Regions from separate parts of the Homo sapiens genome. Here region 2 is reported to be linked to region 1. Evidence: microRNA targets listed by miRTarBase, many of them from high-throughput screens and not tested one by one. Region 1 holds a microRNA gene; the other region holds the end of a gene's coding sequence.

The links. Region 1 holds the annotated microRNA hsa-miR-3940-3p (CAGCCCGGAUCCCAGCCCACUU, at 10,200-10,221, opposite strand). A microRNA usually pairs through its seed, bases 2 to 8, with sites in the 3' UTR of a target mRNA and lowers its output. Matches are read on the target gene's strand: a 7mer-m8 pairs with bases 2 to 8, a 7mer-A1 pairs with bases 2 to 7 and ends in A, and an 8mer does both.
Region 2: miRTarBase lists SPRING1 as a target of hsa-miR-3940-3p. Seed matches in the 3' UTR shown: 7mer-m8 at 1,137-1,143 and 7mer-m8 at 1,218-1,224.

What each region holds. Positions count from the first base shown.
Region 1 is chr19:6,406,235-6,419,945 of GRCh38, forward strand. MIR3940 (microRNA 3940) reads right to left here and starts at 10,277; the gene lies at 10,176-10,277. KHSRP (KH-type splicing regulatory protein) reads right to left here. Exons shown (of 19, transcript NM_001366299.1): 7 at 12,969-13,026; 8 at 12,468-12,642; 9 at 12,249-12,347; 10 at 11,747-11,845; 11 at 11,505-11,607; 12 at 10,753-10,853; 13 at 10,504-10,648; 14 at 10,256-10,416; 15 at 10,064-10,173; 16 at 9,574-9,662; 17 at 9,300-9,500; 18 at 9,146-9,223; 19 at 6,868-9,067. The coding sequence ends at 8,790. It also overlaps the pseudogene LOC390877. RefSeq lists enhancers at 5,463-6,287, 6,288-7,112.
Region 2 is chr12:116,705,002-116,718,774 of GRCh38, reverse strand. It overlaps SPRING1 (SREBF pathway regulator in golgi 1), which reads left to right. Exons shown (of 5, transcript NM_024738.4): 5 at 882-8,604. The coding sequence ends at 965. Among named protein-coding and RNA genes, the nearest start is that of SPRING1, 26 kb to the left of the region's middle. RefSeq lists enhancers at 524-1,053, 1,054-1,583, 9,424-9,603, 10,904-10,953.

The sequences.
Region 1 (13,711 bases):
CCATCATGCCTGGCTAAATTTTATATTTTTAGTACAGATGGGGTTTCACCATGTTGGCCAGGCTGGTCTCGAACTCCTGACCTCAGGTGATCCACCCACCTTGGCCTCTTAAAGTGCTTGGATTACAGGTGTGAGCCACCACGCCCGGCCTAAACTCCCACTTTTTACATTTCTTGCTCAGTCCTGGAATGGGTCTTTTCCAGAAGCCCTTTTCGTGGTGCAAAATTAGGGTTCAAAGAATACTCGTTGCTATTGGGTTGTCATCGTTTCTGGATCTTCCCAGTGAACAGAGCTAAGAAACACATACTCTTGAAAGAGAAAAAGAAATCACAAGTTCATTCTGATATTTCACGTTCACGTGACACTTACAGTGTTGTTCCTTCCCTTTTCTCTTTCCCTAAAAATTTTGGTTCTTAATACCACTAACATACTCATTTGCATCATACCATTAGATACCAAATAGTTTGAAAACAATATGCCAACATTAACTACTAAGAATAAAACTATATGTGTTGAAACATCACTATGTACCCTATACACATGTACAATTATTGGGTCAAAACAATAAATAAAAGAATAAAATTAGAAAAGGAAGTTTAAGATTTCTTTATAGCTCTCATTTTCCTTTATTATTATTATTTATTTATTTTAGTTTTCTTTTTTGAGACAGAGTCTTGTCCTTTGTCCAGGCTGGAGTGCAGTGGCATGATCTCGGCTCACTGCAACCTCTGCCTCCCAGGTTCAAGCGATCTCTGGATAATTTTTGTATTTTTAATAGAAATGGGATTTCGTCATGTTGGCCAGGCTGGTCTCAAACTCCTGACCTCAGGTGATCCACCCGCCTTGGCCTCCCAAAGTGCTGGGATTACAGGCGTGAGCCACCGTGCTTGGCCTCGTTTTCCTTTAATATGTAGGTCCTCTGTATCCATGGGGGATTGGTTCCAGGATCTGTCTCAGATACCAAAATCCATGGATGCTGAAGTTTTTTTGTTTGTTTGTTTTTGAGACAGGGTCTCGCTCTGTCGCCAGGCTGGAGTGTAGTGGCGTGATCTCTTCTCACTACAACCTCCGCATCCCGGGTTCAAGCAATTCTCCTGCCTCAGCCTCCTGAGTAGCTGGGATTATAAGCATGTGGCACCATGCCCGGCTAATTTTGTATTTTTAGTAGAGACAGGGTTTCTCCATGTTGGCCAGGCTGGTCTTGAACTCCTGACCTCAGGCGATCCACCCACCTCGGCCTCCCAAAGTGCTGGGATTACAGGCGTGAGGCACCACACCTGGCTGCTCACATTTCTGATATACAATAACACAGTAGTGGCCAGGTACGGTAATCACACCTGTAATCCCAGCACTTTGGGAGGCCGAAGTGGGAGCTCAGGAGTTTGAGGCCGGCCTGGGCAACATAGTGAGACCCCATCTCTAAATAAATTACATATTCAAAGAGTTAAATAATAAAATAGCATAGTATTTGCATAGAACCTATGATCACCCTCTCATATACTGTAAGTCATCTCTAGATTACTTGTAATACCTAAAACAATGTAAATGTTATGTAAATAGTTGTTATAGTGTATTGCTTAGGGAATAATGACAAGGAAAAAATTCTGGGCTGGGCAAGGTGGCCCACGCCTGTGGTCCCAGCTACTCAGGAGAGTGAGGTGAGATCGCTTGAGCCCAGGAGTTTGAGGCTACAGTGAGCTATGATTGCGCCACTGTACTTCAGCAAGACCCTGTCTCAAACAAATAAAAAAAAGAATTTTATTTTGGACATTGTGAGGTATGGGGAAAAAAACCAGACCCTGTCTTAAAAAAAAAAAAAAAAAGTCTATACATGTTCAATACAGAGGCAACTTGTTTTCCAAATATTTTCTTTTCTTTTTTCTTTTTTGAGACAGAATTTCCCTTTTGTTGCCCAGGCTGGAGCGCAATGGCGCGATCTCGGCTCACTGCAACCTCCGCCTCCTGGGTTCAAGCGATTCTCCTGCCTCAGCATCCCGAGTAGCTGAGATTACTACCACACCCGGCTAATTTTTTGTATTTTTAGTAGAGATGGGGTTTCACCATGTTGGCCAGGCTGGTCTCGAACTCCTGGCCTCAAGTGATCTGCCCACCTTGTCCTCCCAAAGTGCTGAGATTACAAGCGTGAGCTACTGCGCCCGGCATCCAAATATTTTCAGTCTGAGGTTAGTTGAATTCACAGATGCAGAACTCACGCATATGGAGGACCAACTCTATCCCACTATAGATGCACCATAATAAAAATACAGGGTTGGCCAGGCAACCCTACATAATGAAACCTAACTGAAACAAATGACCCAACTATGTATCTATTGCATTCCTTAATTACACAGAAAATATATATATATATCTTTTTATATGGAGTCTTGCTCTGTCACTCAGGCTGGAGTGCAATGGCACAATCTGGGCTCACTGCAACCTCCGCTTCCTGGGTTCAAGCGATTCTCCTGCCTCAGCCTCCCAAGTAGCTGGGATTAAAGGCACGCACCACCACACCCAGCTAATTTTGTATTTTTAGTAGAGATGGGGTTTCACCATGTTGGTTAGGCTGGTCTCGAACTCCTGACCTCAAGTGATCTGCCCATCTTGGCCTCCCAAAGTGCTGGGATTACAGGCGTGAGCCACCGTGCCCAGTCAGAAAATAATTATTTCAAATGACCTTGTATCCTTTTTTTTCCCCCCCACTCAGAAGGCTGAGGCGGGAGGATCACTTGAGTTGGGTAGTTCAAGGCCCCAGTGAGCTATGGTCACGCCACTGCACTCTATCTAGCCTGGGTGACAAAAGTAGACCTTGTCTGAAAAAAACCCAAAAACCCATAACCAGCATTCACAAGAGGTTTGGGCACAGATACAACAATGGTTAGACCTGGCTGTCTGGGGATTCCTCACGCTATCCTCTTCTGTGTGCGTTTGCAGTATTTCATTACATCAACTTCTTTTCTCTGTTGTCCAGACTGGAGTGCAGTGGTGTCATCTTGGCTCACTGAAATCTCTGCTTCCTGGGTCAAGCGATTCTCCTGCTTCAGTCTCCTGAGTAGCTGGGTCTGCAGGCGTGCACCACCATGCCAGGATAATTTTTATATTTTTAATAGAGACGGGGTTTCACCATGTTGGCCAGGCTGGTCTCAAACTCGTGACCTCAAACGATCTGCCCGCCTCGGCCTCCCTAAGTGCTGGGATGACAGGCCTGAGCCACCATGCCAGCCTGTTTTTTTGTTTTTTTTAACTTTGCCATATATCCATCCAGAATATCTCACATCAGTGTCAAGAGATATTCCTTGTTTCTTTTTTTACAGCTGTGTAGTATTCCATTGTGTGGCCACGCCATTGTATATTCAGCTAATCTCCTATGGGCAATAAATTACTTTCAATCCTTTGCCACTACAGACAATGCCACATTAAATAATAACCTTTGCATGTCATTTCACCTTTTTGCTAGTATCCTTGAAATAGATTAGGAGTGGAATTGCTGGATTAAAGAGAAATGCATAATTTTGCTAGCCATCACCAGATTCCTCTTCATTTTACATTTACAGTGAGACCTACAGAACATGCTGCCAAGGTTTTGGATTTTTGTCAACCTGTGTAGGTGAGAAGTGGTATTTCAGTGTGGTTGTAATGAGCATTTCTCTGGCTACAATTGAGTTTTAATATCTTTTGCAAAGTTTAAGGGCCAAGCTGGGCACAGGGACACATACCTGTAGTCCTAGCTATTCAGGAGGCTGAGGTGGGAGATCGCTTGAGCCCAGGAGTTCAGGGCTGCAGTGAGCTATGATCTTGCCACTACACTCCAGCCCAGGCAACAGAGTGAGACCCTGTCTCTAAAAATACAAAAAGTTTGAAAGGTGTTTTGTTGTCTTCTTCAGTAAACTCTTTCTCTCTCTCTCTCTCTCTATATATATATATATATATATTTTTTTTTTTTTTCTGACAGGTTGTTGGCTTTTTCCTTTCTTCTTTTCTTTTCTTTTTTTTTGAGGCAGAGTCTTGCTGTGTTGCCCAGGCTGGAGTGCAGTGGTGTGATCTCTGCTCACTGCAACCTCTGCCTCCCGGGTTCAAGCGATTCTCCTGCTTCAGCCTCCCGAGTTGCTGGGACTATAGGCGTGCACCACCACGCCCGGATAATTTTCGTATTTTTAGTAGAGATGGGGTTTCACTGTGTTGGCCAGGTTGGGCTGGAACTCCTCACCTCAAGTGATCCACCCACCTCAGCCTCCCAAAGTGCTGGGATTACAGGCGTGAGCCATCATGCTTGGCCATTGCATCACATTTGGATCACATGACAATTATAAACTAGTTTGGGAAGACTCAGCTCCTTTATAATGTTGAGTCTTTCTATCCAAGAATATATATCTGATCCTTCTGTGCAAGTATCCTTTTGAGTCACTTAAGAATATTTTACTTTTTAGGCTGGGCGCGGTGGCTCATGCCTGTAATCCCAGCACTTTGGGAGGCTGAGGTGGGCAGATCACCTGAGCTCAGGAGTTCGAGACTACCCTGGCCAACATGGCGAAACCCCGTTCCTACTAAAAATACAAAAATTAGCTGGGCGTGGTGGTGGCTGCCTGTAATCCCAGCTACTTGGGAAGCTGAGGCAGGAGAATTGCTTGAACCTGGGAGACGGAGGTTGCGGCGAGCCGAGATCGCGCCACCGCACTCCAGCCTGGTTGACAGAGCAAGACTCTGTTTCAAGGAAAAAAAAAAAAAAAAGAGGAGGAAAAAAGTATTAGAACCATATTTGCTTGCAGTGTGCATGCCTCATAGCTTTCGAAGGAGACACAGGAGCAGGTAACTAGGCTGCCTCCAGGGAGAGTGACCCTGGGTGGTTGGAGATGGCGAGATGCTTCACTGTGTGTGTGTGTGTGTTTGGCAGTGAATGTCCTGTCCTCTCCAAAAAGTAAATACGTAAAACTTGAGCTAGAAAAATAAAACAAGGTTGGGCATGGTGGCTCACGCCTATAATCCCAGCACTGTGGGAGGCCAAGACGGGAGGATCACCTGAGGTTAGGAGTTCGAGACTAGCCTGACCAACATGGCAAAATCCCGTCTCTACTAAAAGTACAAAAATCAGCTGGGTGTGGTGGTGTGCACCTGTAATGCCAGCTACTTGGGAGGCTGAGCCAGGAGAATTGCTTGAACCTGGGAGGAGGTGGTTGCCGTGAGCTGAGATCGTGCTATTGCACTCCAGCCTGTGCGACAGAGTGGGACTCCATCTCAATAAATAAATAAATAAATAAATAAATAAATAAATAAATAAATAAAACAGACCAGGGTGGCCTGATTATTCCTTACGTGCCCAAATAAATAAATAAATAAATAAATAAATAAATAAATAAAACAGACCAGGGTGGCCTGATTATTTCTTACCTGCCCACGTAATCCTAGATACCTGGTTTCTGGGGAAGCCGGGGTTCTGGAGCCACTGTGCCTGGTCCCTCCACACCCAGCCCCCTTGTTCGGGTTCCTAGGTGGGCCAGGCCCCCAGCGTCGTCATCGTGTTTGACTGCTCCATGGAGACGATGCTCCGACGAGTGCTACACTGGGGCCAGGTGGAGCACCGGGCAGACGACTCGGAGCTGGCCATCCACCAGCGCTTGGACACGCACTATACCTTGTGTGAGCCGGTCTTGACCTACCAGCGCAATAACCTGCTCTGAAACGTAGGTGCTCCCCGCTTCTGGCTCACTGCACCCCAACCCCTAGGGAACAAGTCTGGCTTTAACAGTCCAGGGTCACCCGGGCCTGGTCCTCGCTTTCCTACCAGGTAACCTGGGGGATTCCCATTCCCCCAGGAAATGCCTTGAGAACCCAGCCTTGGCTCACGTGGGAAGGCAATGGGACACTGGTGGGGCCTCCCTGCACGCCCTCACACAGCAGTCAGCAACACAAGCTTTCCTGACCCTGTCCCCTCTCCCTTCACGTGCATGCCTCTGGGATTTTCCCAGGGTCTGAGCGGGAGAGGGTGGTGTCCCTGCCGTGGGGCCCAGACCTGACCCCTGCGGCTCCCCTTTCTCTAGATCCCGGCAGAAGCAGCACCAGAGAACATCTTTGCCAAGTGCTGCTCTGTCATTGAGAGTCTGCAGTGAGACAGAGGGGCTGGGGGTGGGCCTTGCCCCTCACCGGAACCCGTGCAGTACGTGGGAAGGGTGCGTACCTAGGAGGTGAGACCTCCAGAAAGGGGGACCGATGCCCCCTGTGATTCCAGAGCAACAGGTTCCCTTTCCCGGGGTCTGTTTCCCCACCAGGGAGGTTGGCCAGGGGCCACCAAGGAACATGCCCCACTGGGCCAGGTGCCTGGCACACCTGCATGGGTCAGGGGACTGTCAACAGCCCCCCCTAGAGGCCACAGCTGTTACTGGCTCCTGCCGGGGCTATCACCAGGCCCATGAGCCCAGGACATCTAAGATGAAGCGAGTTTTAAACGCTGGCATTCAGCCACAACCTCAGAGACCCTGCAGCTGCATGCGGGGCTGCAAGACACCTGCCCAGGTCCAAACAGCTTGGGTGGCCCCTCGGTGCCCTCTCCCACCTCACATCCGGTCCCATCACCCAGCGAGCACTGACGCGGGCCTGGCTCCCACCTCAGGGCTCTGAACGTTAACAGGCCAGAGGACCTCCTGTAGCAACAGCCCATCCATGGGAACGCCGGTCCCTGAGGCCCTCCTGAGCGCCTTGCTCCCCAAGGTGCTGGAGGGAAACTGGGTAGGGGAAGACAGCAGTGCTGGGCTCAGCCAGCCTCCCCTTCCCACATGGGAAGGGGAAAGTCTTGGGGGGCCACACCCCACTCTAATTGGCTGAGACTTGCTCAACTTGTTTCCTCTCACAAACACAACTGCGGCCAGCACGCAGTCTTTTTTAAACAAAAAGCACTTTATTTAACAAAAAAAAAAAAGGGGGGGGGGCACGGTTAGGAAAGCACATTGAGCCTGAAGAAAACTATTTTATATTTTTCTTAAAAAAAAAAAAACACAAAGTTTGTAAATTTCAATCACCATTATCAGGCTTTTTAAACAACATCTATAAAGAACAAACATCCGCTTCAAAACTACAGGGAGGGAAGGAAAGGGGGGGAGACAGACAGCACCCGCAGACGGGGAGGTTTTGTTATCATTTATTTGTGAAGTTAAAAACGAGCGATAAAAAGTAAAAACTGCCATACAATTTTTTTTGTTGTTCTCATTTTGTTTTCAGTTTCAATCTCCTCTTGAACAGATGAAAAGACAACAGACCAGTCCTGGGAGGGGGGACGGGCGGGGCCGCGGGAGCTGAGCCAGGGCGGGAGGGAGAGAAGAGGGGGCTTGGCTGCTGGGGGAAGGGGTCCTGCAATACAACACCTGGTCCAAGGAATGTTCCACCTCTAACTAAAAAAAAGAAATAGCAAGAGTGACTTTTTTTTTTCCTTTTTAAAAGTTTATTTTAAAAACAAGAGGGCCGAGGGTGGGAGAAAATGAATTGCTTTATCCTCAGAGAGGCAGGTTCAGGAAGGCTGGGGGGTGAAGAATAGAGACTTTTTAATATATATATATATAATTTTATAAGTTCTGCTTTGCTCTTTGTGTTTTTAATTTTTAAGTTTTTTTTTTTTTTTGGCAGAGATTTAGATCTCGCTATCTTCTCTGGCTGGCTCAACATGGAAGGATCCCAATTTTGAAAGAAAAAGCATGTGAGACACAGAACAGGCGAGAGAGTGAGGGCCCGGCATGCCCCCAAGTCCCCCCCACCCTGCTTGCCGCGAGGGCTCCCCAGTACTCCCCACGGCAGCCATCGCTCTCTCGCCAAACAAAACAGAAGCCCCCAAACAGAACAAAATGGAAAAAAAAAAGATTTTTCACAGATGAAGAAGTTCACATTCATTCGATTCATTGAGCCTGCGGAGAGGGAAGAGATAGGAATTGGTCACTACGGGGAGGGAAGGGTGGGAGACTAGGGGGCGGAAGAGAGGAGGGGCTGGAACACCGTGGGGGGGGCCAGGAAGCCCCCTCCCAAACCTGCGCTGGCTCAGGCTGGAAGGACGTGCTTGTTAACTGTCTAGCCAGGTGCTCGCGGGACTCGCTGAAGTCACGCTGCTCCCTGATGGAGAAGGAGGGACAGAGCAGGAAGAGAGGAGAGGGGCCGCGGAGGGCGGAGGCGCTAGGGTCGTAGGGGAGCTGCCCTGTCTCCGGAGGGCGGTGGCTCCCGGCGCAGCACGACGACATGAACAATCCAGAGATCATGGTGTCCCCACAACACCCCTGTGAGGTAGGTTGGAAGGTGGCAACGATCTTCACGCCCACTTCACAGACAAGCCCGGGACACAGGCAAGCGCGAGCGCATGGGAGGCTGAGCCCGGCGGGGCAGGGGCCTGGGCCGCTCCCCGCGTCCCCACCAGTCCCTGCCAGAGCCAGGCCGCCTGCAACACAGTCACTTGGACACAGGAAAAAAGATCATGGGTTTAAAAAATAAAAGAATAAAAAGAACAAAAACCAAAAAAGTGATGCAGAGAAGGGGAAAAAATAGACGTTTTCTTCCCAAGTGGCCAGATTGTGAGCGAGGTGGTGGCGGCCGGGCCGGTGCCCACCGTCCGCGCTGTCTGCCTGCCCCCCGACTCCCCAGCAGTTCAGAAGTCCCGCCTGCGAGTCTCAGCGCTCCCCAGCATCACGACAGCGGCACACAGGAACAAGCAGCCGGCGCAGGGAGGCCTCTTCGTTTAACCTCTGGACCCAGCGAATGCTTCCCTGGCGGTGCGTGGGGACTCCCGGAGACCTCCGGCCACACGGCCCCCGCTGCAGGCATCAAGGGCACACCCCGCAGGGGAAGGGGTTTCCGGCGCTACCCACTAAGGCAGGATGGACGGTGGCCGGGGGTTGGAAGGAGAAAGGAGGAGGAGGAGGGTGGCAATTCCCACTTGCCTGCTGCTGTCCCTGCTGCGTGGGCGGCGGCTGGGGGCCGCCAGGACCTGGGGTCTGTCCGTAGTAAGCGGCCTGCTGTCTGTAATATTCCGCCCAGGCGGCACTGTAGTCTGGCTGGGAGCCTGGGGGAGCTCCTGGACCCCCTCCGGTGGCCACTTGCGCTGTGGGTGGACAAAGGCAGGTGAGAGGCTGTGGGTGAGGGCTGCCCCTGCCCCTGTCCCCGCATGGTGGCCACTCACCTTGCTTCTTGTAGTACTCCTCCCAAGCCTTCGTGTAGTCCTGCTGTGGGGGTGCTCCGGGCTGCTGGGGCTGCTGGCCTGTGCGGGCGCCGAGACAGGTCAGAAACCACTCCCCCGGCAGGGCTGGAGCCCCCCCGCCACCCTGCAGACTCACCGATCTTTTTGTAATACTCTTCCCAGGCCTTAGTGTAGTCCGACTGGCCGGTGGGTGGGGGCTGAGGGGGCTCACCCTGAGCCGGTGGGGCCGCAGGGGCCGGTGCGGGGCCGGGGACGGGGCCCGGGGGCTGCTGGTAGTAGTGTGAGTAGTAGGCGGCCCACGCGGCGTTGGGGTCCGCGGCCGCTGCAGCTGCTTTGCCTGCAGGAGATACCTCGGGTGAGACGGGGGGACAGAACAGGGCCTGCCCTCCGCCAGGTGGCCCATCACTTACTTGGGTCATGAGGAGCAGGCGGCTGCCACTGGGGGTAGGTATTGCCCCAGCCCTGGGGTGGGTACTGGTGAGGAGGGGGCCCCCCGGCACTGCAGGAGAGAAGAAAGGGATGCTTGAGCAGTGGTGCGGGGGTGGCCGCAGCCGGACCACCTGGGGTGGGGATGTTTTTCAGTGGGGAGGCGCCAGAGACCCAGACCACCAGGCTCAACGGGGCGCCTGGGAAAGGCCTAGACAAGAAGCAACTCGAAGGACGCGCAGCGTCAGCTTGAGGACATGAAAGAAGCCGCGAAACTTGCACGTGCACAGAGGGATGCTGAAAGGCACATGCTCTACCAGTAGACAGGAGAGGGCCTGTTGATGGTATCCACAAAAATGGGCTGGATGAGGCCCCCCGCCTGCACTTCTAGGGAAAGGGAAATGGGGTCTGCTATTCTTCTTGCCAGCTCAGTAAGCCCCCGGCCTCAAAACCCAGGAGGCAGAGGATACTCACTGTGGGGGAGCCCCGGGTGGCCCCTGGTTGAAGGGCCCAGGATTGAAGGGCCCCATTGGGCCAGCAGGGCCTGGGCCACCTGGGCCTGGTCCAACTGGGCAGAGAGGACCCTAGAAGGAAGGAGAGTAACCAAGGTAAGTGGGCTGGGATCCGGGCTGTGAGACCAAATCCCCAGAGCCCGCCCCAACCCACCTCGATCTTTTCCTCGATAAGCTGCTTGGCGTGGTCAATCTGCTGGGGTGAACCCCGGATGATGAACAACTTGAAGTTGGGGTCCCCGTTGGGTGGCAGCTGCCGGGAGATCTCTACGAAGGCTCCCGTCTGCTGGTTTATGGCTTTCACATTCTCGCCACCTGCAGAAACGCAGAAGGTGAAGGTGGCCTGCAGTGATGGCCCAGGGAAGAGGGGGCAAGGGATAGGGTGCAGGGGGCCACACTCACCTCGGCCGATGACCAGCCCACACTTGTGAGTGGGGATGGAGAAGGTCATCTCCCCGCCAGGGGGACCCCAATTGCCTTGGCCTCTTCCTCGGCCTCGGCCCCCCGGGGGCATGCCTGGACCCCCTGGAGGACCTGGGGGACCACTCTGCAAGACAAGAGGAGGAGGAGGATGATGAACCCTGGAAGCCGGTCTGGTCTTGCACTCCCCTGGAGGCCCTGCCAGCCCCTTCAGCACCCGGGGCCACCTACCCTGAGGCTCTGGAGGAGGTCGTTGATGATCCGGGCTGCGTGCTCGCACCTGTCTGGGGGCCCCATTATATGAGCAATCTTCTCGGGCCCTGTCCCGTCATCTGAGGCCAGCACCGAGAGAGCAGAGACACAAGTTTAAAAGAAGAGCCCACCCCAGAGCCCTGCAACGCCGCCTCCAGCGCAGACACCACGCCGGCCTGAGATCTCAGACGCGCTGCGCCGCTCCCAGCCTCCACTCGCTCAGGGATTGAGGGGGAGGCGGCCCACATTCCCAGAGAAGGAAACCCACGGCCAAGCCAGGAGGTGGCTCAAGCTTCTTCCAGCACACAGCACCCCCAGCACTGAGAGATTTTACAGAACAATAAATCTCTGAAAAGCCAGAGGGGCCCTTCTCCCCACGGCAGGCAGCTCAGAGACTGCCTGAGGACTGGCAAGAGCCCAGAGCTGAGGTGGAGTGCCCTGATCCAGCCTGCGGGGCACCCAGGGCTGTCCTGTCAGGATAGGCTCCATCGTAGGGGGAGGAAGAGGAGATCTGATAGGGATAGGAACACACGTTCCCCCTGGATGTGGAAAGCCCTCATGTGTCTGTCCCAGAGAAGAGAAGGGACTGGCCATGTTCTGACGGCTGGACTAAGAGCCGTGAGGTGCTATGGAGGCCACCTGGCTGACCACGGTGCCCAGCTCCCTCAGAGCCTGCCTCCCAAAGAGGGTGGGGGTGCACTGGCCAGGGGCAGGGTGGGCCAGGCCCTGACCTTGCTTGAACTGTATCCGCACGCCAGCATCATTCTGGATCTTCTTGATCATCTCTCCACTCCGGCCAATGACCACGCCAACAGAATGCCTGGGCACTGGCACCTGGGGAGGGAGGCAGCAGCGTCAGCTCGGCCCGCAGCTCTGCTGCCCTCTGCTGCCCACTGGCCACAAGGAGCCACTCACCCCGGCCCCTCCCTCCACTGGCGGGGGAGAGGGGGGTGAAGGCAGGGCCCACACTCACATCGATGCCTCCGCCAATCCGAGATCCGTACTCATTCCGGTCCCCAAAGCCGCCTTGGTCACGTTCCCGGAGGATGTCCATCACCATCTCACAGGCTTGCTGCAAACACACAGGAAGCAGCCCCCATGGGTGAGCCCTGCTGCCCCACACCCCCCCACCTCCTCGGGGGTGCGGGCCTCAACTAAGGACCCACGAACCCTGGGTGAGCCCAGCACAGCACCCTACTGAGCTCTCTACCTGCCACTTTAATGGGGAGGCACTACCAGCAGCCCCGTTTCCAGATAAAAAAGCAGAAGGTCAGAGGTGAGGCCGGTGCCTCACACACACAAAGCTGGGAGTCAGTTCAGGGCCATCCTACGAGCCAGCGCTCTTGCAAGCCTCTTGGTGTTATGACCGACTGTTCACATATCTCTCTGGCGGAATGCAGACCCCGAGACCGCTGGCCCTGCCCACCTGCCCGTGCCTCTCCAGAACCCCCTCCACCACCCCAGGGCGTGCTCACCTGCACTTTGTAAGGATCCCCAATGATGCGGAGAGGTTTGTCCACATTCGTATTCTGAGATCCGTCCTGAATTAAGATCATCTTCACTCCAGCGCGTTCCTTTACAAGCAAGGTTAACCGTTAGTGCTGGGCTCTCCCAGGACTTCCTGGGCTGCTGTGGTGGTGGCGGTGGGGTGTGGCACACGGATGCAGAGGAAGCTGCCCAGGTGCTGCCCTCACCTGCAGCTGCTTAATGGTCTCCCCGCCCTTGCCAATGACCAGGCCGGCCTTGCCCGCGGGGATCATGATCTCCTGCACGGTGCCGTTCTGGCCCCCGTTGGCGTTGTCGTGGAACTGTCCTGGGGGGCCCCCACGACCCCGAGACACAATGTCATCCAGCATCATCTTGGCTTTCCTGGGAAGGGGAGGAGCGGGGGATGAGCGGGTGCCACCGCTGGAGAAAGGTACTGGTCTGGTGGCCCACCCAGCTCAAAGGGAAGGCGACCCCAGAGTGTGCAAGGATGACAGGGAAGAGGGGCCAGTCACAGGGGCTGTTCAGGCTCCAGGTTCCCCAGGTCTTGGGCTGCCGGGGAATCAGCCTCATGTTAACATGGCTGTCTGGAGATGGGGGCAAGAATGGAGGACATGGCGTGCAAGTTGCTCCCAACTTTCAATTCAAACGGACAGAGCAGGCTTCTGCCTGCCCCCCACATCACAATGAGAGGCCCTGTGGGGACTTACTGGACAGATTCTGGGGCTCCTGTCAAGGACACACTGCGCTCGGGTAGGCCACCGCTGTCTGAAAAGAGGAGATAGAGTCAGTGCCCTCCCTGGCCCACAGGCAGAGAAAGGCCTGCCTTGGACACGAGGAAACTTTCAGAACAACCAAGGGCCACTTCTGTCCCATTCAGTGCCTGACAGATCAGTTTACTTCCCCTAAACACCTGGGAGGCTGCTCGATGCAAGGCCAAGGTTGGGAAGAGATCCCAGAAGGGAGGTAGGACTTTAAGGGAAAAGGATGAGGTGGAGGGAGTTGCAGATTCCAGAAGGTCCAGGAGCCGGCCACCCCCACTACCAATGATGACCAGAGCCGCTTCTATAGACAACACGTGCTACACGCCCAAGGAAGCCTCAGAACCCCCTACCCAGCAGGCTTTCTGTAGCTCAGGACTCTGAGATTCGAAAGGTAACTACATTGCCTGAGAGCAGATGTGCAGCCAGAACCGGGATTTGCTCCTGGGCCTGACCTCAGAGTGACCCCTCTGTCCAAGGCACCACCCTGTCTCACGCAGTCTTGCCGGGGTGCTTTCACCCACGCGGCAGGTCAGTGCAGTGCGTCGAAGCTCGGTGTCTGGAACCAGGCCCCTGTGCGAAATGCTAGCCCTGCCACCTCAGTCCATACCCACCCACTGAAAATAAAAAAAGTCACAGCTGTGCCCCGTGGGCAGTACTAGTGGAGTGAGATACTGCACTGAGCCTGGTCC
Region 2 (13,773 bases), not on the chromosome of region 1:
CTCATTTTGATTCAGATTCTCTCTCATTCTGAGAAACGCTAGAAAAGGCGAAGTATTTTCTTTCCTTCACTGATAAAACCCAGGAATTATTTCCAGTCTTCAGTGAAGCTACTATACTTTAGGACTTGGTCTTTTTTACCATAAAAAGATTTCCCAATTGCCATTTGATTTGTTTTGATAAAAGTATCCCAAGAAAGAGAAGACTTGGCTATATGTCTGTTAAATTGGATGAATATTTACAAGTTTGTTGCTTAGCATTGGTCTTGGACTAATTAATGAATTCTAGACTAGCCAAAAACCCAAGTTGCTTGTATGAAAACAAATTGCTGAAAAATTAGCCATCAGGAATGATTGTCTGCTTTAAATCACACTTCCAATTTGCTTAGCCAAATGAGGCTTGCATGGTATTGTAGGATTTGGCTCATGCCCCAAATTTTTAGGTACATAAACTTTATGAAAGCAATTTAAAGTGCATCTCCTTAGTGTCTCTGCAGGGTTCCTTACGGGAACTGAGTGAAGCTCAGGATCAGGTGCAAAACACCCATTGGATCTTAGACTGTTTCAAGTAATTTGAGGAAAAGTAGTTGTCTTGAGTCACCAGGTCACAGCAAAGTTATTTAAAAACTCACTGGTGTACATAAAAAGAAACAGTCCCACAGCGATGTTATGTCTGTGTTCATGCTCTTCATTGGCATTCTGGGTTGAGCATTCTTCTTTGTTCCAGAAAGTGCCCTGGAGCCTTTAGTGACATTTGGAGATGGACTCGGCCAGCCCCCTGCAGGGAGAGTCTGACAGTCCCGATCCACTCTCACTCTTCCGAGAGGGAGGTGTGTGAAGCTGTGCTCGCTCTCACTGCGCTCTTATTTTCCTTTTGCCAACAGAGCGTGCAGCATGAGAACACCTACCGGGACCCCATAGCAAAGTATTGCTATGGAGAAAGCCCGCCCGAGCTCTTCCCCGCTTGACGGGTGCAGCGGACTTGCTCCAGCCTGGGTGAGGAGGCCCCGCTGAAGAACTCGCCTCCTGGGACCCAGCTTCAGCCATCGGGCCAGGCTGCAGGAAGAAGACAAAGGCAGCGTGAGGAAACCTTGGCTTTGACCCCTTCTCGTGTTGTCATCTTTGGCTTCGCTCACCACCCGGGCTTACCAGATGGAACTCTTCTGTAAAGCAGCTTGGCCCCTCCAGCCAGTCCCATTCGGGAAAGATGAAACCGGAGGCCGGGCTCACGGTGGTGGTGGAGTTCTTGGATGACTCAGCCCTGGGACCTGCACAGGGACCTGTGACTTGTGTTCATCGGGGGCCGGTGTCACTTCCAGTTTTGATCCAGGCTCTTTCACTGTAAAATTATTTATTGGATTCCTTTGGAGTAATGGGAACATTCTAATGTTTTATGTAGGAAAATGCCTTGCCATTCTAGTTGAATATGTTCAAGGAAATTATTTTTGTTGTTGTTCTGTGTTCTCGAGTTTCAGGAGTTAAATCATTCTTCCACCCAGATACAACATTTTCTCTTTTAGGACGTGAATATTCTCTCTAGGCAGTTATTTTTGTTTGTATTTCGACAGTATCAAGCATAGGCCCTGAACGTGACCTGTTAGCCATATCCTGACGTGTAAAATTATCTAAAAACTCAGACACTCTTCCATTCTAATCTAACTGCACGATTTCTAACAGTGGGCACCATGTGCCTGCCCTCAGGTTATTTTCCAGTGGTAGTCGAATGTGCTCATATACCCTATGGAGAGCACTGTTTTAGCAGAAATCTAATTTCTCTTCCTGGAGGAATTTGTTCTCATTTCTTTTGCCACTTAAAATTAACTGTGGGCTACTCAGCCAGGGTACAGTGGGAGCCTCAGGAAGGTCAGAGGCAACCTCCTCCCCTGTTCTATCAATAGAAACCCAACGTTGAGGCAATTCCTAAACAGACGCACCTCGTAGCTTGCTGTATGTGTTTATTCTTTATTGCTTTCAGCTTTGGGGCTGTAACAGGTACAAATATTTGGTTTCCCTATGATTTATAGAGAAGAAGAAGAAACCCAGCTTTCTATCAGAGCACTGCAAGAGAAGAGTCTTACACCTGCCCTCAGTGGGAGATGAGAATGGTCATTATGACTTAGAGAATGCTACACGTGTAGGTTGCTGGTGTGTCCTGAATCCACAGGCATAAAGCACTCCCCATTTTTCCTACTGTAATGCAGATTCTCCGGCTCAAGGTCTAGAATATTTGATCCTAAGATCAAGACATCATGCCCTTCGAATAGTACTGCTCTTTGTTTTCAGGAGTCACGTGAACACACAACTCTCCTATATTCCTCACGAACCTCAGGATTGAGCAAGGTCTTTGTAATTTTTTTGGTTCACTTTATTGACCTGGGAGCAAGGTGCTAATTCTGTGGTCAGTATTCAATGTTTTTTTCAGTGGAGCTTTTTCTTTGGGCCATATTTGCCTTCTAATACATTCCTGCAATATGTAGTGGTGATTTCCCTTAGCTTCCTCCTACTACCTCTTATACTCATCTCCCCAAATTATTTGCCTCCCTTAAATAAGTTTTCCTAGAAGGTAAGCTGGTCAGGCAATTTGAAAAATATTAGATCCCAAGAAATCTATTCCGTTTGCATTGGACTTCTCGGATTCCATGTGTTTGCAGCAGGACTACATCGAACTCTGATGTGCCGGATTGTGGCATGTCTGCATGTCTCATCCATCTATTGTTTTTGGTAACTCAGTTTGGAATTTCAGTGTCTGTCTTCCCTGGGTTGACATTGGAATCAGCCTCTCCTTTGAGCTTATTTTAACTCTTGAGCAACATAACATAGATTTAATGTGAACAGTTTATACCAAAGGGCAGCCTGTGCCTGTTTATGGATCCTCTCTGCCTTTGTACTTGAAGAGCGCATTTTACATTTCCAGTCCTTTCACAGACAGGAGCTCCAACCTTACGATGGAGAATTAAACTTGCTTGTATTTCCACTTTGTGGATGAGGAACTATGAGAGGTGGAGTGACTTCCTGGGTCCCCGCTGAGACTTAGTGACAGATCCCAGACAAGAACTTCATCTCTGACTCCAGGTCTAGTCCTCTTCCCCCTGTCTCTTGCCAACTCCAGCCCTGACACCGTGGGCGTCTCCCCTGAGAGCAGATATATTTCAATTGTCCAGGCCAAAAGAGGGGCGAGGCGGCATAAACACCCAAATTAGGTGGAGGATCCAAAAGTCATTTTCATTTGGCTGTGGAATATGTTTTTTGTATTTCAATCAGCTAGGGGTGTGTTCACTGTTTTTGGAAATTCACAGCGCTTGAGCCTCCATAATGAAGCTGGGCTGCAGAGCACCTGGCACGTGCTCCAGGCTCCCAGCTCCCAACCTAGGACCTCTCCCTGCCCTCCACTCTGGTTGGTTTGTGGTTCCCTCGACCGAGGGTTTCTAGAATCAGGGACCTTGTCTAAGTTTTGTTTGCCCAGAGCCCAGCGAAGTGTGTGATACACCTTGGGAGTTTAGGAGATCACAAAAGGGATGAAAACACCTTTAGAAAACATTTCATTGGTGGGGCGTGGTGGCTTATGCCTGTAATCCCAGCACTTTGGAAGGCTGAGGCAGGTGGATCACCTGAAGGCAGGAGTTCAGACCAGCCTGACCAATATGGTGAAACCCCATCTATACTAAAAATACAAAAATTAGCCGGGTGTGGGGGCGTGTGCCTGTTTTTGTGAGACTCTGTCTCAAAAAAAAGAAAAAAATATTGTTAATAAGTGAGTGTTTTCGGCTCAAGGGAATTGAGTCATACGTTGCATCTCCCCCAGTTCTGCATCTTATTTGCTGCGCTTGCTGGAGTTGTAAAGATTGGTCCTAACAGGGAAAGAAGCACACAAGAGACTGTGAAAAGGGCTCTGAGACAAGCAAGGACAAAAGAGGGAGGGAAATACCTTCCACAGGGCCTGGGATCTGGCAATGCTAGAGCCTTTTTTTTTTTTTTTTTTTTTTGCGATGGAGTCTTGCTCTGTTGCTCAGGCTGGAGTGCAATGGCGTGATCTCAGCTCACTGCAACCTCCCCCTCCTGGGTTCAAGCAATTCTCCTGCCTCAGCCTCCTGAGTAGCTGGGATCACAGGCGTACACCACCACACCCAGCTAAGTTTTTGTACTTTTAGTAGAGACGGGGTTTCACCATGTTGGCCAGGCTGGTCACGGACTCCTGACCTCAGATGATCTGCCCGCCTGAGCCTCCGAAAGTGCTGGGATTACAGGCGTGAGCCACTGCGCCCGGCATGGAGCTGCTATTGATGGGTGAGCTCCACAGCTTTTGCAGAAGCAGAGGATATGACTTGAGAGCAGTGCTGTCACCTCTCAGCATGTCCCCAAGCCCAACTGGGGCCTCCTGGAGATGCCTCAGTCGGCACTGGCCCCAAGGGAATCGTGGGGAACAGTTGCACAATTTGCAAGTTTCTGAGTGCAGCTTTTCCCATCCTTGGGATCAGCAGATAAGTTGTAAACACAGGGAGGTACTGCTTATTGGATATACTTTTCATAAGTAGGACAGAATTCTTTTGGGACTCTAGAGTTGGGAACTACCACTTACTAGCGGCGTGGCTGAGGCAGTCTTCCTCCTCTGTGGCTCAGGCCCTTCATCTGTGAAATGGGGTCACAGCATCTGCCTCTCAGGGTCACTGTGAGGTGTCGATGTGAGCAAGGCCTGAGGCTTGGCAAGAAGTCAATGTCTGCAACTCAGCAGGGAGCAATGGCAGGGGCAGTCAGGGGTCGGCTCGGATAGGGGTGGGTGGGCTCCTGAGGTTGGAAGGGTAGGAATTACAGAGCTCTTGTTACTATTGTTGTTACTGTTTTTAAAGATACGATATTTCAGATAATTCAGGAGCACGTAAGGATGAAACTTAGGATAACCTAAAATCACACAACCTAGAGAGAAGCGCATTTTTGTCTTCCCCCATTTTCTAGGCAAAAATGAAAGTACTTTGTCCTCTTGAAAAACAATTCTCTAATGAATATCCTATGTTACATAGAGGCCTGTGTAATGCATTTGTGTGGCCACATGGTGTCAATTTCATGAATATACAATAATATTATTAATTCCCTGCTGAGGACATTAACTGGTTTCCAAGGCTGCTTGTTGTTTTTGCTACTACAAATAATGCATTGATGATAAATACTTTTACATACATGGTTGTATGTTTATCTGAACTATTTTCACCAATATATTCACCTAGTGTGTATGGAAGTGTCCATTTTTGTCATACCCCTGGTAACCCTGTGATATTATTTTTAAACATTTTGCTAATGGATCTCTGTTCTTGTTTGAATGTATTTAATTTCCAGCAGAATGAGCCCCATTCCTTATTTTGATTGGCCATTTATCATGTACATATGGTGAAATGCCTATTCGTGACTTAGCCAATGTTGTTTCTTTTTCTTACTGATTACTACAGTACATTTTTATATGAAAGCAGCCTTTGTCCCCTTCTCTTGTTTTTCAGCCCTGTGTTAGAAACAACTAAGCTCACATATTCACAAACCAACTTTTCCAGTTCATCTAGGGCAGTGGTGCTCAACAGGGGCAATTTTGCCCCCCAGGGAACATTTGGCAATGTCTGGAGACATTTTTGTCACAGGTGGGGAGGAGGGCAGTACTGTGGGCACTCGTGGAGGGAGGCCAGGGATGGTGCCCAACAGCCCCCACGACACAGAATTACCTGGCTGGAAGTGGGAGCCGGGTGGAGGGAGGGAAGCCCTGCTCTGGGGTCATATCTCCCCGTTAGATTGAACAGAGGAGCTCCTGGTAGCTGAGTGCTGACTTCATTATTTTTCCCCGCCCTTGCTTTCTACCCTGCTGAAGTGCTGCTGATTAAATTACCCTGAAATCCCCACAGGACACATTACTTCCTCACAGGTCTCTACTAGCCCAGCGCTGCCTCAAGGAATGGCATTATTCCTTTGCCACTGTGTCCTCACCGCACTCTTGGACTCCGCCGAATGCAGACACCCTCCTGTCTGCAGAAGGATCTGGAGGGGTAGAACGCTTCCCCTCTACGACGGATTGACTCCCCAGCACCTCACCAGCAGTTCTTTGAATGGAGTGGCTTTGGAGGTGGGAGTTGAGGAAGAAATGTGAGCCTGTCATTACAGGTTCTGTTTAGAAAACTAGTCATTCTACTAAAAAGGTATCACATAAGTAAGTAGGAGCAATAAAAACAAAGAAGATAGTGGGACTCCGAGAAGCTTTCCCCGCCTCTGGCCTGTTAGTCTATCGTTCGTTGGGCAAGGCTCTTCCAGTGTGTGACCTTTTGCGTGTTATCACAGCATGAGTGCAGTTTTGTGTACAGGCATCCCTATATTCAGCATGTATCTGCAACATGCCTTACCTCGTCTGCTGTCACAGAGCAAAGTGGAGCAAGTGGTCGCCGTTGGTCTGCACCTGAGCTGGGAGCCGAGTGGTGACGTGCATATGGGCCGACTGCGTCTCCACAGAACCTACTCAGTGATCTTCCTGTGTACGACTCAGTCCCTGATGTTGGAGTTGAACTGTAGGACTGTCTGTAAAATGAAAGTGCAGACTTTAATGTAGTAAAGAGAATGACTTGCCAGTTACAACCAATGAGCAAAGCAGTTAATTATTCAAATATTTTACCAAGAGTCCAGGTTTATTTTTTCTCAGGACTACACATTCTGTGAGACCAGAGGGACCAAGACATATCACTACCAGAAATGTGTTTTCATCAGCACTGCCAGAGGTTTTCATAGGGTAGTTTACTCTTGGAATTTTTAAATTCATACTTTTTTTTATGCAACGTGGGGTAGGTAAGCTTCTGATCACTGTGCACCCAGATTATCCCAAAATCGAAAGTGGTGTTGGCAGCCGGGTGTGGTGGCTCACACCTGTAATCCCAGCACTTTGGGAGGCCAAGGTGAGAGGATTGCTTGAGCCCAGAATTCGAGACCAGCCTGAGCAACATAGGGAGACCCTGTCTCTACAAAAAATAAAAAAAAGGAGCCAGGCATGGTAGTGCACACCTGTAGTCCCAGCTACTCAGGAGGCTGAGGCGGGAGGATGGCTTGAGTCCAGGAGGTCAAGGCTGCAGTGAGCCGTCATTGCGCCAGTGTGCTCCAACCTGGGCCACAGAGTGAGACCCTGTCTGAGGAGGGGAAAAAAGTGTTGTCTAAATGAGAAATCACCATTATCAGTAATTTAAGATTCCAGGCTATGTTGGTCACATCTCACTATTCTTTTTTTTTTGAAACGGATTCTCGTTCCATCGCCCAGGCTGGAGTGCAGTGGCACGATCTGGGCTCGCTGCAAGCTCTGCCTCCTGGGTTCACGCCATTCTCCTGCCTCAGCCTCCCGAGTAGCTGGGACTACAGGCGCCCGCCACCGTGCCCAGCTAATTTTTGTATTTTTAGTAGAGACGGGGTTTCACCGTGTTAGTAGCCAGGATGGTCTCGATCTCCTGACCTCGTGATCCGCCCACCTCGGCCTCCCAAAGTGCTGGGATTACAGGAGTGAGCCACCGCGCCTGGCCACATCTCACTATTCTTAAGGAAGAGAGAGAGCGAGAGAGAGTGTTGTCCTGTCCTGTGGGGATTGGGGCATTGTATTAAGTTGTACTGGGGGATGTCAAGATAGAAATGTTGAGTAAGTTACTACCTGAATAAATATTTGACCAGTTGATGCTAATTTGAATAGTAAATGTGATGACATTATATATTCTCAGGGATGTTTCCATACATTGGCTCTGTGTGTGCGTGTGTGTGTGTGTGTGTGTGTAACAAAAGCAGTATGAAGTATGTGAGCAATATCCTAATTTTATTGACAAGAGCACTGACCTTAATGACCTTGAGTAAATTACCCTCTCCGGCTTTGGTTTCCTCATTTGTCAATTAAGGGTGATGGCTAGCGTATCTTGCAGATCCAAATTCCAATTTTTGTAACAAGCCAAAAGTCCCCCTGGCTGTTAAAGCAAGACCAGAGCCCTCGTATCCCAGCGGCTGGGTCCCAGGCTTTTGATTTTCACAGGACAAATGTAGCCCAGCCATCTGGAGCCCGTTTTTCTCCAAACCAGGGCTTCCTCCTTCTCTCTTGCAGATTTCAACTGGGGCTCACCATTTTCTGCCTCTTCCTCCTCCAGTTTTAAAGAGACACCATATCCTTCTCTGCTGGGACCAACTTCCCATGTACTGCTGCCCTGCACCTGTGAAAACAGCTGCTGTGTTTTCTGTCATAAAAATAGCTGCCTTTTGGCAGAGAAGCACACAACGGTACTACGTTTCTGAGCCTTAATGCAGTGCTCAATTATTTAGGTGTGCTTCACCTGAGATACACAGAGCATCTTGGAACTCCTACTAAGCAGGGCTTCTACAGGCATTGCTCAGCTCAGTAAAAGGTTTTCCTTTCTCTGCTTTTGTGATTACCAGGCAGAAACCTTAAAATGTATGAACTTACAAAGAAATTAAATTGTGCCAAATTAGATTCCCAGCCCCTAGAGATAACCACTAATTAAAGTTCCGCTGGAGCGTTTTGCCTGTATTTTGTATATAAACGTGGATTTTGTATTTGTATGTAAATAAAGGTAGGACCCTGCTGTCCATATTATTTTAAAATAATTAGCTCCTGTTAGATTGATTTAATCCAATGATAGCGAATTCATTTGCAGAGCAGGCAAGCGCACTTTCCACTTCTATCATCCTGCCTGGAAGATTGAAGCCCAGTTAGAGGTTAAAACCCTTTCATAATTGCACAGGAGTTTAGCTTTGCCTGCTTTTTCCTTGTCTGATTTTATGCAGTGGGGAAGGAAGTCTTTTTGTTCTGCACAAATAAATTATAGGCATTTGTCGCGGCCGGAGTTGACCTGCATTAGGGATGCTGAAGAAACCTGTCACGGCAGGGTGTCTCTCGGCGTGACTCGACTTTCCTGAGAGAGCAGAGATCGGGAAAACTGCACTCCAGATCTCCTGAGCCTGTCATTTATTTTAGTGAATTGCTAAATGCAGAAATGTAAAATATAAAAAGGCTAGGGGAGGATCTGTGGACCGTCTTACTGGCTACCTGGTGTTGTAAGATTATTTGAGCTCAAGGCAGTCCACATTTCCCCCAGCACCAGCCAGCTCCGCCCTGTCAAGCTGCTGGTCTACATGGTGGTTTTCGAGGGTATAAAGGACTTCAGTTTCTAAAGATGTTCCTAAATGCTCCGTGGCATCTGCAGCAGGATGTCGGGAGCTGGAATCCACTGTGCTCTCTTCCCTAGGCACGTGCTGGACTCAGTTTCTCCCGGGAGGTTTGCATCTGGGCAGCACTTCAGGGCGTGCTCCTCGAGCTCCGTCCGTGGCATCCATACCTGCCTGGGCTGTGCCTGCAGCCTGCTAAATGCCAACCTGGAAGCCCAAGACAGATAGGCTTGGAGCAGCTTAGCAGCCGGCTGGGCTAATTTATTTGACACAAATCAGCTCATTGACCTGATTTAGCACGGGGAGGAACTACAGAGCCGAGTCACATGTGATCGTAAAGCCCTTTCTTCTCACTGCAGCCCTTTCAGACCTCGAAGGATGGCAGTGTAGTCAAATGACACTTGCGGTGCGATTTCAAGGGAAGGAGGAGAAGATGGAGAGATGGAAAGTGGAGAGCAAGGCAGCGCGGGTGGCACAGACACCGACAATTGCTTTCTGTGCCACTTGGTGGCACCAATGCCATAGGTTTTCTGTCCTCAATGTGATCGTTGTCTAGAGATTATGGGCCCCGTGCCTGCGTGGAGCTCTCTCTCCTGAAAACAATGAAGCTGTTTCTATAGATGAGAACCATCTGGTGGGGATGACAGATCAGGACTCTTTCCTGGGTCCGGGCGATTTTGTGAACAGGGACTCAGGAAAGTAGCCCTTGCAGAAGAGGGAACTGGGCATGCTGCTGGTGCAGAGAAGACCCAAGGCTTAAATAAATACTCACAGCTACCCCCTTCTTCCTCCTGCACCCTCCGCCAACACGAAAAGTGGGATAGGCCTCTTAACCATTCATACTCAGACAAAGAAAAACATTTATGAAGCACTTGCCATGTGCCACTCTGCACGTGCAGCGTCCCATCCCCATCTTCAGAGACCAGCATTCTTCTTTTGTGTGTGTGTGTGAGAGAGAGAGAGAGAGAGAGAGAGAGCAAGACAGGGTCTCACTCTGTTACCCAGGCTGGAGTGCAGTGGCGCGATCTTGGTTCACTGTAGCCTCAACCTCCCAGGCTCAAGTGATCCTCCCACCTCAGCCTCCTGAGTAGCTGGGACTGCAGGCACACATCATTACACCCAGTTATTTTTTAAAAATGTTTAGTAGAGATGGGGATCTCGATATATTGCTCAGGCTGGTCTTGAACTCCTGGGCTCAAGTGATCTGCCTGCCTCAGCCTCCCAAAACGGTGGGATTATTATAGGCGTGAGCCACTGCACCCAGCCAGGCATTCCTTTTCTTTTTTCTCTTGGAATGGAGTCCTGTCACCCAGGCTGGAGTGCGGTGGCGCGATCTCTGCTCACTGCAACCTCTGCCTCCCGGGTTCAAGCGATTCTCCTGTTTCAGCCTCCCAAGTAGCTGGGACTACAGGTGCATGCCACTATGCCTGGCTAATTTTTGTATTTTTAGTAGAGATGGGGTTTCATCATGTTGGCCGGCTGGTCTTGAAGTCCTGACCTCAGGTGATCTGCCCACCTTGGCCTCCCAAAGTGCTGGGATTACAGGGCATGAATCACCGCGCCCAGCCAGGTGTTCTTTTTTGTCATTTTATAGAGGAAGTCTCAGACGCTCAGGTTAATTTTAGCACAAGTTTACACCATGACATGGAGGAGCCACCTGCAACTCCAATCTGCGTGCAAGCAGGGCCGGGGCAGCGCGTTGCCTTGGCACGTTTTGATCACCCTTTGTTGTTTCCTGTGGGCAGGGGCTGTGCCTCAGTCTCTTATTTCTGGGCCCATTGGCCTGTCTATGAAAGGATGTCAACAGGATAATGCATGGGGTCCTTCCAGCCCTGGTATTCTAGAATTGTAGTTGGTGGCTTCTAGGACCTGGAAGGTGTTGCTTGAAACCAGTGCTGTTTAATCAGTGGGAGATTTTACACCACCCACTTCAAGCAATGTTTGAAGACATTTTGTTGTTGTTTTTGTTTCTTTGTTTGTTTGTTTTGAGACAAAGTTTTGCTTTGTGGCCCAGGCTGGAGTGCAGTGGCACAATCACTGCTCACTGCAGCCTCGAACTCCTGGGCTCAAGTGATCCTCCCATCTTAGTCACCTGAGTAGCTGGGACTACAGGCATGAGCCACCATGCCTGACTAATTTTTAATTTTTTTTTTTTTAGAGATGGGATCTTGCTGTGTTGCCCAGGCTGGTCTCCAATCCCTGATCTCAGGTGATCCTCCCACCTCAGCCTCCCAAGTAGCCGGGACTACAGGCCCATGCCACCACACCTGGCAAAAACCCATGCTGTTTAACCAGAGGGAGATTTTGCCCCCAGGGGATATTTGGCAATGTTCGAAGACATTTTTGATTGTCAAAAAATTTATGTGCAGGGGTGCTACTGGCATCTGGTGGGTAGAGGCCAAGGATGTTGTTCAACATCCCACAACACCCAGGACAACCAGCCCACAACAAAGAACTCACTGGCCTGAGTGTCAGAAGTGCTAAGGCTGAGAAACCCTGGGTTAAACTTTGTGACCCCTTGCATGGCAAGGATACGGAATTTTGAGCCCTGAGTATTCACGCAGCAGGTATTTAAAGGGTGCTTACTCTTCGCCCAGCTCTGTGTAGGTACTTGGGGAGTATACAGAACTGGAAGATGCTTCATCCCTTCCGGGGCTTAAAACTGAGTTGCTCCAAGCCTCTGGTTCTGGACACATTGTGCCTGAGCACCCTTAGATGTTGATGCTACCATCCCTCTTAGGATAAAATACCACTTTGGATTTCCAAAGAAAATATTTTATCCTCAACAGAGTAGCCACTATTTATTTATTTATTCCTACCTCATGCATAGAGCTACACTGAGTGTAGCTGGTTTATTTTCAAAAAGAAGTTGAGGAAATGCCACACATTAGACTCAAGGAAGAAAGTTAGAATCAGATGTGCAACTGTAAGCCAGCAACACAGTTGATGCAAGTAAGCTTCCTGGCAGCAAGGGCAAAAAGGGAAATAATCCTTCATGATAATATAAAGCATTGAAGGGACTGTATTACTGTCTCCTCAAAGGGTACAAAGTCTTGAATAAAATTTTAATGTAGGCTTCACACAGAAGATACTGCTTAGTATTTGGTAATGCGTACTATGTTCACCAGGCATATCAAAGGCAGGCATTTCTGGGTTTTGGATGGAATGATAAATTAGGAATGATATCTGTCTTCAGATGTCTGTTGGAGAAGATAAGCAATTATGCCACTACCTGTTAAACAGGGTTATAAATGTGAGGATAAAAGGAGTGTTACTATGTGAGTGAGGCAGGCAGAGAAGACTTACAGAATAAAACAATATGTTTTTATTTTTATCTTTTAATTTTTTTTTTTTTTGAGACAGGGTCTTGCTCTGTCACTCAGGCTGGAGTACACTGGTGTGATCACGGTTCACTGCAGCCTCAACCTCCCAGGCTCAAGTGATCCTCCCACCTCAGCCTCCGGAGTATCTGGGACTACAAGTGCACACCACCATGCCCGGCTAATTTTTTGTATTTTTGTAGAGACGGGGTTTTGCCATGTTGCTCAAAGTGGTCTTGAACTCCTAGACTCTAGCAATCTGCCCACCTTGGCCTCCCAAAGTGTTGGGGTTATAGACACATTTTAAAATACATATATATATTTTTCTAATTGCAAATTAATACACTGCATTACAGAAAATTAGAGCAATACAAATATGAAGGAGAAAATAAAAGCTCCATAACCTTTCTACCTGTAGACAACCACTGTTATCCTTTGATGTGTATCTATTTTCATGCACACATGCGCTTATATATTAATATATTTAATAGAAACAAAAATTGGAATCTCATTATATTTTACCATGTTGTAACCAAATATCCCTTAAAGGGCTTTGAAGGATGAGTTGGAGAGAAAGTGAGTTGCACGCCACTGCGGAGTTGGGCAGCCAGAGTCAATTTCCACCACGCATGCATGGATCATGGAGAGGGGTGAAATCCCACATTTCATTCTGCATCTCCAAGGGCCATCATTCACAGGGAGCTATGGAACCCAGCAGCCCTGGGGCCCCATTCTCTCTCTCTCCCTTTCTTCACCTAACAATGTAATGGGAATGGTTTTCCATGTTAAATAGTCTAGCATTTGATTTTTTGGTAACAGCTTTATTGAGATATAATTTACTTACAATTCACCCATTTGAAGTATACAAGTCAATGACTTTATTCACAGAGTTGTGCATCCATTACCACTATCAATTTTATTGATTGATTGATTGATTGATTGATTGAGATGGAGTTCCGCTCTTGTCAGCCAGGCTGGAGTGCAGTGGCACAATCTCAGCTCACTGCAACCTCCACCTCCCGGGTTTGGGTGATTCTCCTGCCTCAACCTCCCGAGTTGCTGGGACTACAGGCACATGCCACCATGCCCGGCTAATTTTTGTATTTTTAGTGGAGACAGGGTCTTTTTAGTAGAGTCTTTTGTGTCTGGCTTCCTTCACTTAAAATGATGTTTTCAAGGTTCAATCATGTTGTAGCATGGACCAGTACTCCATCCCTTTGTATGACCGAATAGTATTCCATTGTGTGGCTATACCACATTTTGTTAAAATACTCATCTGTTGATGGAC